3 linked regions of the Homo sapiens genome follow. The protein of the gene in region 3 binds, or shares a complex with, the protein of the main gene of each other region. Each region holds a gene or a part of one and is shown on either strand. Other genes may lie near its edges.

What was found.
Region 1: MED12 (region 3) and MED13L share a complex: the UniProt entries of both Homo sapiens proteins name them as parts of the mediator complex.
Region 2: MED12 (region 3) and MED16 share a complex: the UniProt entries of both Homo sapiens proteins name them as parts of the mediator complex.

The regions. Positions count from the first base shown.
Region 1 is NC_000012.12:115,963,095-115,966,743, forward strand, and holds part of MED13L (mediator of RNA polymerase II transcription subunit 13-like), read right to left. Parts: intron 3,150-3,649; coding exon 2,988-3,149; intron 426-2,987; coding exon 313-425; intron 1-312. UniProt on the Homo sapiens protein: Component of the Mediator complex, a coactivator involved in the regulated transcription of nearly all RNA polymerase II-dependent genes.
Region 2 is NC_000019.10:883,101-886,749, forward strand, and holds part of MED16 (mediator of RNA polymerase II transcription subunit 16), read right to left. Parts: intron 3,102-3,649; coding exon 2,670-3,101; intron 1,909-2,669; coding exon 1,803-1,908; intron 1-1,802. UniProt on the Homo sapiens protein: Component of the Mediator complex, a coactivator involved in the regulated transcription of nearly all RNA polymerase II-dependent genes.
Region 3 is NC_000023.11:71,131,974-71,135,622, reverse strand, and holds part of MED12 (mediator of RNA polymerase II transcription subunit 12), read right to left. Parts: intron 3,551-3,649; coding exon 3,417-3,550; intron 3,247-3,416; coding exon 3,085-3,246; intron 2,779-3,084; coding exon 2,667-2,778; intron 2,501-2,666; coding exon 2,411-2,500; intron 1,267-2,410; coding exon 1,157-1,266; intron 911-1,156; coding exon 775-910; intron 532-774; coding exon 370-531; intron 1-369. UniProt on the Homo sapiens protein: Component of the Mediator complex, a coactivator involved in the regulated transcription of nearly all RNA polymerase II-dependent genes.

The sequences.
Region 1 (3,649 bases), on a different chromosome or scaffold from region 3:
TTCCAGACACTGTCTTCTAACTATCCACCCCCAAGATCTGACCTCTCTTCATCACCATGAAGTGCCTGCTCTGAACAGGAAGCAAAGGCAACTATAAATGCCTATCACTGCCTAACTGAATCCAATGTATTACACCGCCTGTCCCATGCAGCTATGAGGGACTGCAGCTCTCACTGACTCATCAGATACTGTATCACTGCACAAACGGCAGCTTCTATGAATACCACACTTAGATTAAAACACCTTGGAAAGACAACAGTAAAGGAATATTGTTTCAAATTGCACTGCTATGATGCCTAGGTTGGTATCTACCTTAAAACATCCGACGTGGTTTTGGAGTCAAGAGGGTGTGGAACCCGCTGAGAATTCCTGGCAGGCAGAAGTTCGTCTGTCTGTGCTACTGAAATGTGGTGATGCAGCGAAGCCTGGTGAAAAAACAAAGAGAGTTACCTCTCTGGTCTAGACAATCACAGTGCAGAAGTGAGGGAGGCCATGTCTGCCAGAAGCAGATGCTCCCAAAAGTCCGTAGAAGTCAGGGTTTCTGTGAGTCTACAAATTTTAACCTGCTCAGTAACCCCCAAGGTAATCCCAAATAACTTCTTATCCTAGAGTTGGAAAAAAACAAAAAAAAAGCAAACTTTTTGGGCTTTTTTTGTCTACTACATTTTGTTTCTTCAATGGAAATAGTCTAGCACACACAAAAATACTATAATATATAATAAGGTCCCATGAATTGATATCGCCAAGATGCAACAATTATCAATATTCACCACTTTTCTGTTTTCATTTTCTTTTTCTGAATTAAACACAAATATTACCATCTCTATAAAACATTAAAAAAAAATAGCTGGGCATGGTGGTGTGTGCCTGTAGTCCCAGCTACTCAGAAGGCTGAAGCTGGAAGATTGCTTGAGCCTGGGAGGATGAGGATGCAGTGAGCTGTGATTGCACCACTGTGCTCCAGCCTGGGCAACAGAGCAAGACTCTGTCTCCAAAAAAAAGAAACAAACAAACCAACCCCCAAAAAACCCTCCCCACAAAAAAACAAATATTGTATTATTTTGCTTGTAAAAAGTCAGTAGATGTCTCACATAAGGACCTTTAAACATAACAGTAATTATCACAGAAAAATTAACAATGATTCCTTAATATTATCACCCCATCTGTAGGATAATGAGGAAGATAATGCTCCATTATCTCAAAAATGTCTTTTTATAATTGGTTTACTAAAATCATGAGCCAACATGATCTGTACATGACAAATGATTAAAGGCATGAAATGTCTACTGTCCCACTTGAAGTCACATGATTCATCACTGGGTTCAGGTGATACCAGGACACTACATCCATCATAAAGTTCCTCATCAACTTTTCACCTAATGGTTTTGGTATTACTTTACATGTAAAGGAGAGGCAACATATAAATGCTTCTTTCTCTTTATTTTTTTATTTTTCAGACTGAGTTGATGCTCTAGCAACAAATGATGACTGATTTTTTGTTTGTTTTCCAACACAATTATGAACCAAGGATTTGTTTCATTCTATCACTGTCATCATTTTTTTTAATGATCACACTGTCCCATCCTATCCCTGGACAACAGAGCTGCCCCCTAAGATGGCTCCTGAGGCCCTGCTGGACCATAATAATCTTTGGTAACTTTCTTCCTTTTAGGTGTGACAAGATGCCTCAGGTTCATTGTGAATATTTCCTGCTGCATATCTGGAATCAGTCATCTCTTCAAAGAACCACAGTTCCTTTAAATGACAACGGTGTGCAGGAACCACATTCGTGGCAACAGAGGTGTTTATTGCTGCTAAGCTTTTTCAGCAGACAGAGCTAAAAAAATGTGTATACTTTTTTAGAGAGGAAAAATAAATCTATGCTCATATTGATAATTCTAATTCAAAATAAAGAACACATGCATTTTTATAAACCTTCTTTGATTTTATAATAGTATGTTAAAGTCATTAGGAAAAGAACATTGCTTCACTGTCTAATAAGTTTTTGGTTTAATTTCCATCGTTTCTTTCTGAAAATATACACAGCTATGTGTGTACGTGTATATGTGTGTGAATGTGCATATCTTATAGATTACTCCATGGTAATCTCTACTCCACAGAATGATTACATAGAAATGGTCTCCATTTTGTTGTAGATGATTAATATTTCACTGTCTGGATGCACCACAGTTGATTCAATCAGTCCCTCACTGATGACACTTAGGTTCTTTCTAGTCTTGGACATATGTCATTTTCTGTTTTGGCAAAGAACCTTTGGGCTATTCCTTAGAGGTGGGATTGCTGCCCTGAAAGGGAAGTGTGTAGGGCTATATCATTCAGCAATCCCACCAACACCAGGGCCTGCTCCCCACATCTGGCCAACACAGTATGCTGCCAAATCTTTGTATTTTTGCCAATCTGTGGGCAAGAGATGGATTTCATTCTAGGTATTGCTGTTTTTAACATAAACTGCAAGTAGGGGATCTTTTGTTTTGAACCCTTAAAATTGGGATTAAAAGGTTCCAAGAAATATAAAGGAAGGAGCAAGTGTAAATGTGCGATGTTTTTAGCTGACTCTTACTCTTCTCTAATGAAGAATGTGAAGAGTCCCTGGCAGGGGAAGAAGAGGATGGCTGGTTATTATACCTTCGACACAGGCTTAACTTTACTGATAGTGATGCAATATAGACTTGGAGAAAGACCATCACATTGAACCCCATGCATCCATCCTAGATTTACCCTCTGGGCCCCACTGTTTCCTCCTTGGGCTACAGTGATTCATTTCTTTGTGACATGGTTTTGGGTCCTCCTAAATTCTACTCTCCACCTACAACTGTAATTAAAATTTCCTCAGAGTATAAGTAGATACAAGAGAAAAAAGGAACAGAATAAGATTATGGTGACTAAAACTGAAATTTCTAACCAAAATTAAATTTAAGCGTAAATCACTCATTCCTTGCAAACTTCTAATATGACACCAAACCAACCTTTAAGAAGAGAGGGCACTGGTTTTGAGCCTGGGGACACGATGACCAAAACCACTGGGGAAGATTCTCAGCTTTGGCAGTTGATACAAAATACCCAAGGGCCAGGGGCTGCTGCTTTAGCTCCTCTGGTGCTTCTCTAGAAAGAAGACGCTCACCCTGGCTCTGAAAAACAAAAATCCCAAAAACATGATCAGCATTTATCTTAAAGCTTGAAAAATGAACTTTCATCAGTTCACTCTGCACACTGCAGTGAGTGATCCCCTTTGTGGCAGCATCTCACAGAAAACAACAGGTGACTGAGAAAGGTAAGCGGGGCCAGCATCGTCTTTGCTGCACACATAGAGAAGATACCAGCAAAACTGACAGCCTCAGTCAAGTAAGTACAGATTTATTTGCTTGGGTTTCTTTTCTAAGGGATGTAAGATCTATTTCATGGCATTATGATGTAACAAACTAAAATGGAAAGATTACAATCTCTGACAGCAGAAGGCTCTACCACACGCAGGTGCTCTTTCACCAGCAACCAGCCAAAGACACACAAGCGCACCAGCCTGACCAGGACAATGTGACACCAGTATGTGCACAGCACAAAAGTTCCTGAGCTGCCAGTAGTGCAAGATCTGCTCACAGAGAAGCCATGTTTTCATTTGCAGCATTCCCCT
Region 2 (3,649 bases), on a different chromosome or scaffold from region 3:
CCCTCCTCCATCCAACTGACGGCTGCGGTCAGCATTCCTAAATGAGGGGGGACTTGAGGCAGGGAGAAGCTAAGCTGCTAAGTGGGGATGTGGGGCAGTGGGTGAAGAGCTGGGCATGGTAGGAACCGAAGCCTGGCATGGTGGGCACGTGGGGCGGTGCGTGAAGAGCTGGGCATGGCGGGGACCGAAGCCTGGCATGGTGGGCACGTGGGGCGGTGGGTGAAGAGCTGGGCATGGCGGGGACCGAAGCCTGGCACGGTGGGCACGTGGGGTGGTGGGTGAAGAGCTGGGCATGGCGGGGACCGAAGCCTGGCACGGTGGGCACGTGGGGCGGTGCGTGAAGAGCTGGGCATGGCGGGGACCAAAGCCTGGCATGGTGGGCACGTGGGGCGGTAGGGGGAGAGATGGGGGAGAGATGGGTGCGGTGGGGACTGTCCCAGTGACCCCCAGCTGCCAGGGATGTGAGACCTGAGAAAGGCTGTGGCATGTGTGTGAGACGTGGCTCTCGGGCGGGTAACAGCTGGGCCAGCAGGTGAGGACGGCTGCAGGAGACGAGGAGGAGTGTCGGAGCCCAGGACTGCCCAGTGGCTTGGCTGTGGGCAGATGGTAGACACAGACGTGCCCAGCGGGGGCACCGGGCAGTGAAGGTGCAGGTCTGTGCAGCCACACGGGGTGGCGCCAGGTGCTGCTGCAGGAGCCAGCGCAGCCCAAACTGCCTGGTGACTCACCACGAGGCCCAGGGGAAGGAATGAGGCCCAACAAGGCCCTGGGGACCGGGCGAAGGAACGAGCCCTGGGAGAAGGAATGGCAGCAGCCCTCTTCACCTGCCTGGTGACTCACTACAAGCCCTGGGGGAAGGAATGGCAGTGGCCCTCTTCACCTTTACTGCCTCTGCGGCCACAATGGGCAGTTGACATAACCACCTGCAGGCCCCGGGAGCCATCGGGGCCTCTTGACACGTGCTCATTAGTGGCTTCTGAGGAGCGCCTGCCCCACCTGCCCCACGTGCCCCCACGTCTGGCCACTCCAGGGTCCATTAGCGCTAATCGGCAAATGCCTGTGCTCTCATCTACCGGGAAAACATCTCCCTTCTCCAGAGCGGAGGCCAGCCTAAAAACCAGGCCCGCAGCCTCCGAGGCTCTGAAAACCAAGCGGCTGTTCTGGTCCCCGGTCATAGCAGGCGGGCGTCCCTGCTTCGCTCCAGCCCCAGGATTTTGTGCCGGAGGTGGGGATGACGGGCTTGGCTCCGTGGGTGCGGGGGGCCCATCGGGCGGATAGAGATGGGAATGGGGGCCCCAGAAGAGGCTGCTGGAGAGGTGGGGTGGGGTGGGGGGCGTGTTCTCAGCAGCCTCAGCTGACCCGCTGAGCCTTGGCTTCCTCTCCCTGAACCAGGTTCCGGAGGATTCCGTGCACCGCCCCTGCCCGGTCTGGCCTGTCCCCTGCTGCCCGACGGCCCCACCCACAGACCCACGCTCCACAGCCGCCCACACGCCTGCAGCCCCTCACGGTGTCCCCGCTGGCTGAGCAACGACACCTCTCAGCCTCGGCCTCGCACAGAATGGTGGCAGCCGCCGCAGCGGGCGTGGAAGGATGGAGGAGTCTATACGCCTAACACACTCAGAATGCTGGCAGGCGCGCGGTCACACCCGAGATCCTAGCACTACTGGAGATCGAGGCGAGACGATCGCTTAGGGCCGGGGTTCAGGACCACCCTGGGTGACACAGCAAGACCTGCCTCCAAAATAAAAACCAACCGCCCCCGAGGGCAGGCCCAGGGCCTCCGCAGCCGGCGGGAGACTCACCCACGGGGGAGATCTGCTGGAAGATGTTGTTCACGGGGAGTCCCTCCTTGCGCAGGGACCAGCACTCCACGATGCTGCTGGTCTGGCTGGACGCGCACAAAAGCACCTGCGGGGGAGGTGGGGGTGAGGGCTGACCCGGCACTGCTGTGGTGGCCACGCCACCACCGGAGCCTGAGCTGCGGGACCCTGGGGCCACGCACTGCTGGGCCTGTCTCTTCAGCCACGCCTGCCCCTCGGGCCCTCCTGGATTCCAGCCCAGGCCTGTCCCCAGAGCCCAACATCCACTCACAGGAACGCAAATGTCCCCGGATGGTGCCCTCCCACAGGGACAGCAAAGGGACACAGGGAACCAAGTCAGGGGCTTCAAGGAGTTTGGGGCGTTACTGATTCCTAATTACAACAGGAATCCAGGCGACCTGGTGTGGTCGGCTCAACAGTGGCCCCCAGAACATCCCATCCTCAGCCCTAGGACCGGTGGCTGGGCCGCCTCTCACAGAGAAGGGACCTGCGGGTGGGATTCGGTTCGGGACACTGAGACGGGAGAGCACGTTGGGGGGGGTCCGGGGGCCCCAGTGTCCTCACAGGGTCCTCAGGAGAGAATGTGGGAGGTTGAGATTCAGAGACAGGAAGAGGCTGCGCTGTGGCCACGAAGCGGGAGGAAGGCGCCCCGAACCGAGGGATTGGGCGCCTCCAGATGCTGGGAAAGGCAGAAAATGGGTTCTCCCCTGGAGCCCCCGGGAGGGACCGGCCCTGCCCACACCACGGTTTAGCCCGTGGAGGCCCGCGCGGGTCTCCACCCCCAGGACCCTGAGAAGCAGTGCTTCATTCCAAGCCTGCCAGCCCACGTGATGGCCTGCGCCCGTTCACCTGCTCCGACATGTCCCGGGCCAGGAACTTGAGGTGGGTGATGGCGGGAAACTTGTCCTTGCGGTTGAGGTCGGTGGTGCAGCGCATGAACAGGGAGGGCAGGATCTCCGTGTCGATACGGCACTTCTCGCTCACCACGCTCACGCACACCTTGTAGAACTGCACGGGCGACGCGCTGCTGCCGTCCGCCGTGGCCACCACGATGTTGCCGCCGCCGGTGAAGGCGATGTCGGCCAGGGCCACGCGGCCGCGCAGCCGGCACAGGCTCTCGGTGGACGTCAGCACCTGCCCGCTGGGCTTCAGCAGGGACACGGTGACCAGGCCGCTGACCGTCACCGCGATCCAGCCCTCCATGGGCTTGCCGCCGAACAGCGTGAGCGACGGTGAGAACTTGACTCGGGAGAACTTCTCCCCGAAGCTGGAGGCGCCCGACTGTGGAGAAGGGAGGGAGGGAGGAGGGGCCGCTCAGGCTCATGGGGGCTGCCCCATGACCCCCAGAAACACGCGCACAGAAGAACCACGCAGAAGCCAGGAGTGTGTGCACCTGGGTTCAGATCCTGACTCGGCCACCTGAGCCGTGTGGGATGTGATCCCCTCTGACCCTCCGTCTCCTCATCTGTAAGGTGGAAGGAACGGCACCTTTGCTTTAGAGGACAGTGGGGAGGATTAAACGGGTGAACGTGTGCGCAACGGGAGTCACCTCCCCTTTCTGTAAAGGGACAGACAGCAGCATGCTCGGTTCTGGGAGCCAGGTGGTCCCTGTTGCAACGACTTGGCTCTGGCTCTGCCGTGGCGGCACACAGGCAGCTGGTGCCAATGAGCCACACTCACAAACCCAGGCGGGGGCCGTCAGGCCCTGGGCCGCACTGTGCAGACCTGAGCTATAGCACTCAGGAAGTGCTGTGTAAGCACCAGCGGCTGCTGCGGGCACTATTTGATTTCAAATCAAATTTGTCAAGTCATTATTGACATACGGAAAC
Region 3 (3,649 bases):
GTGTGCAGAGATGGGTGGGTGTAGGGAAACACAGAAATAAAAGAGATACAGGCTGTCGGCCAGATAGATGGGTGGGGTAGGACATGGGGCAGGTGGAGCAGAGGAAAGAGGAGGGTAGGGTATTGAAAAATGGGTGGTATGTTAAAAGGTGAGGGCAGGGTGAAGGAAAGAGGGTGGGACTTCAAAGATGGAGATGAAATGTAAGGAAAGTTAAGTGATTTGCTCAAAACCCCAGAGATGGTGTTCACCGGCAGAGACTGATGGGCTCCTGAATCTGATGAGTCTGTTGGAGCTACAAAGCTGATGCAGGCAAAGTTCTTGCCCAAAGGGGAAAAAAGGCAAGGGACACGGGCAGACAATGGAACATGCCTCCTTCTTGAAGATGGAATCGAAGCCAGCAATCTTGTTGCCCTTGGTATCGATAAGGGAGCCCTGTGGCTCACACGTGATGACATCTCGGGTCTGCTTGGGCAGTGGCAGCAGCTGGCGAACCTTTTCCAGACTGTCTGACTGGCGCTCCCCCAACTCCTTCTGCAGGCACAGGAAGATGGGACAAGAGTTCAGAGATACAGAAAACAGGGATGGGAAGTCTCAGGGGACAGCACAGAACCTGGCACAGAGAAGACCCCCACTCAGTAAATGCTCACGGCATGAGTAACAAAGAAAAGGCAGACGTGAGAAGGAAAGGTAGAGGGCTCCAGCCAGAAGCAAGTTCCTGAGGCTGGACAGCAGATTCCAGTAACCGCAAACCTTGCCCCCGCTTCCTCTGCTTACCTGCAACTTCTTCGCCAGGTTCATGTATGCACGCTTGTTTTCCTCCATGCTACCTTGCGAGATGCTAGACATGTCTGCAGCCAATGTCCCATTGATGAGCACGCTCAGCATGTCCAACACAGTAGTGAAGAGCTCACTGAGACAGGAAGCCAGAGAGAAAACCAAAGAAGAAAGAGGTGAAGATAGAAAAAGGCCTCAGCAGAGGACACAAGCAGGGAGAGGTGCTTAATATGTCATCCCAAGGGCACCAAAACTGTATGGGGAGCCCAGGGCCACGGAGTCCACAGTAACAGCCACACCAATCTCAGTGGGTGCACCTGGCATGGGAGTAGGGGGAGCTTCTTGGGTATGAAACTGCAGGGAGCGGGTGGGGATGCTTTACTTGTTGGACTGCATGTCGACAGTGCCGCTGATGATGATCTCCAGGAGGAGCATGGCCCACTCCGTGGTCTGCTGGGTGCTGCGCTGCACCGTGTCAAACATGCCCCCCACCTGCCAGGGCCACAACAAGTCAGTCAGATGGCTCAGGGACAAAGGCCAGAGTTTCAGGAAAGCTTAGTTCCAATCTGAGTTGGGACGCCTGAGTTCATGCTTGAGTTTTTTTTTTTTTTTTTTTTTGAGACGGAGTCTCGCTCTGTCACCCAGGCTAGAGTGCAGTGGCGCGACCTCGGCTTACTGCAAACTCCGCCTCCCGGGTTCACGCCATTCTCCTGCCTCAGCCTCCCGAGTAGCTGGGACTACAGGCGCCTGCCACCACGCCCAGCTAATTTTTTTTGTATTTTTAGTAGAGACGGGGTTTCATCGTGTTAACCAGGATGGTCTCGATCTCCTGACCTCGTGATCCGCCCACCTCGGCCTCCCAAAGTGCTGGGATTACAGGCGTGAGCCACCGCGCCCGGCCATGCTTGAGTTGAGCCTATGATTTGCTACATGATCTCAAGACAATGACGGAATTCTTGACGTCTCTAGGCCTCTGTTTCCATACTTAGAAAGTGATGGGAATTGGACAGAATGATTTCCAGGATTCCATTCAACATTCCACAGTGGGTTTCCAGTGCTTCTAGGGCCCAGTCAGAATCTAGGATACTGAGGCAGAGGCCCTGCAAGGATCCAGGGTACATAACCTATTGGACCATGACCACAGTGATCCAGCCCCCTTAACCACTTTCAGTCCCTGCATACTTTCAGAGAACAAGGTTAATACTTCAAGACTCAGGCTGGGCACGGTGGCTCATGCCTGTAATCCCAGCACTTTGGGAGGCCGAGACAGACGGATCATTTGAGGTAAGGAGTTCAAGACCAGCCTGACCAGCATGGTCAAACCCCATCTCTATGAAAAATACAAAAATTAGCCAGGTGTGGTGGTACACACCTGTAATCCCAGCTACTCAGGAGGTTGAGGCACGAGAATCACTTGAACCCAGGAGGTGGAGGTTGCAGTGAGCTGAGATGGCGCCACTGCACTCCAGCTTGGGTGACAGAGTGAGACTCTGACTCCAAAAAAAAAAAAAACCCTTCAAGACTCAGAATAACCTGGGGCCTCTATCCTTACCCCCATTCTCCCCAACCTGAGGCTTTTGCACTCCGCATTTCCAGCCCTACCCTCTTCCTTCTTCTCCCCAGCTGGCCTTCTCACCAGGTTGAGCCGCAGTTTGAGTGCCTCATGCATAAGCTGCTTTGGTTTGCAATCATCTAAGTACTGGTCATCTCGCCAATTATTCACAATCTAGAATAGAAACAAATAAAATATGCAGCTCAGGGATCTTCGTGTTTCCATCCCACAGCAGCCAATATGTTTATCAGAAAGTACTGAAGTTTCCAAGTACAGAGTAACCCCTTAGGTGCATCCTTCCCTGACCTCCTGCCCACCTCCATGGCCCAGAGATCTGTACCTGGTGCACCTGGCTGTAGAGGGAGGTAAGGAGTCCCTCGCGTTGTTCATCCTGCCCTTTCAGACATGTTAGCACCAGCGATAAGAAGGGCTGCTGGCTCAATAGGGACATGCTAGAGACAAGAGAAAGAAGAGAAGAGAAGAGAAGAGAAGAGAAGAGAAGAGAAGAGAAGAGAAGAGAAGAGAAGAGGAGAGAAGAGGAGAGGAGAAAAGGGAGACTGTGGGTTGGGAGTCAACTTCCAACCTCATTCTCCAGACTACTCTCTTAAGATCTAGCCTCTTGCTCAGCCATGCCCACTCTTATCCTCTGATTTTCCACTTTCCTATGATGCTTCTCCTTGGCCCATTTTATTCTTCCCCGGGCCTGCCTCTTCTCCTTTCTACCCCTCAATCTTGGTCCACTCCCTAAGCCCCTTTACCTCTTCTGCTTTTGTCGATCACGTTCTTTGCGTGAAGAGGAACCCAGGTGCTGACCCTTCTCCAATTCTTCCCCAGCAGCCTTTAACACATGTCCCTGGACTGAGGTGGGCAGTTTAGCAATGAGGGGGGCCACCAGCCATACACCAGAGCGCTCTAGAGAGCTGGAGAACAGACAGAGGACACAGGGTCACAGGGGAGCCAGGCAAGGCTGGAACAATCTATCCTCTCCTTTCCCTGATGGACATGCTGGCATCTCCACGCATCTGATATCACTCACGCTACCAGCAGATAAACTCCTAAGGGGATGGGTCCTAACATGTTTCTATCCGACCTGAGCACAGGCTTGGTCTTGCTGCTGCTGGGCATGTTGCTTGCAGTACTTCCAGAAGATGACCCTGTCTCTGCTGACTGTTGGAAAACCTCGATTGTGGCCTTGGCGATGTTCTCCAAGAGGGAGTTCATCTCCTGGGGAGGATGAAAGGCACAGAAGTGCTAAAATAGGTAGCTAAGGGTGAAGGAAAGCAGATGGTAGGAGAGATCGGAGATGACGGAGAAGGACAACAC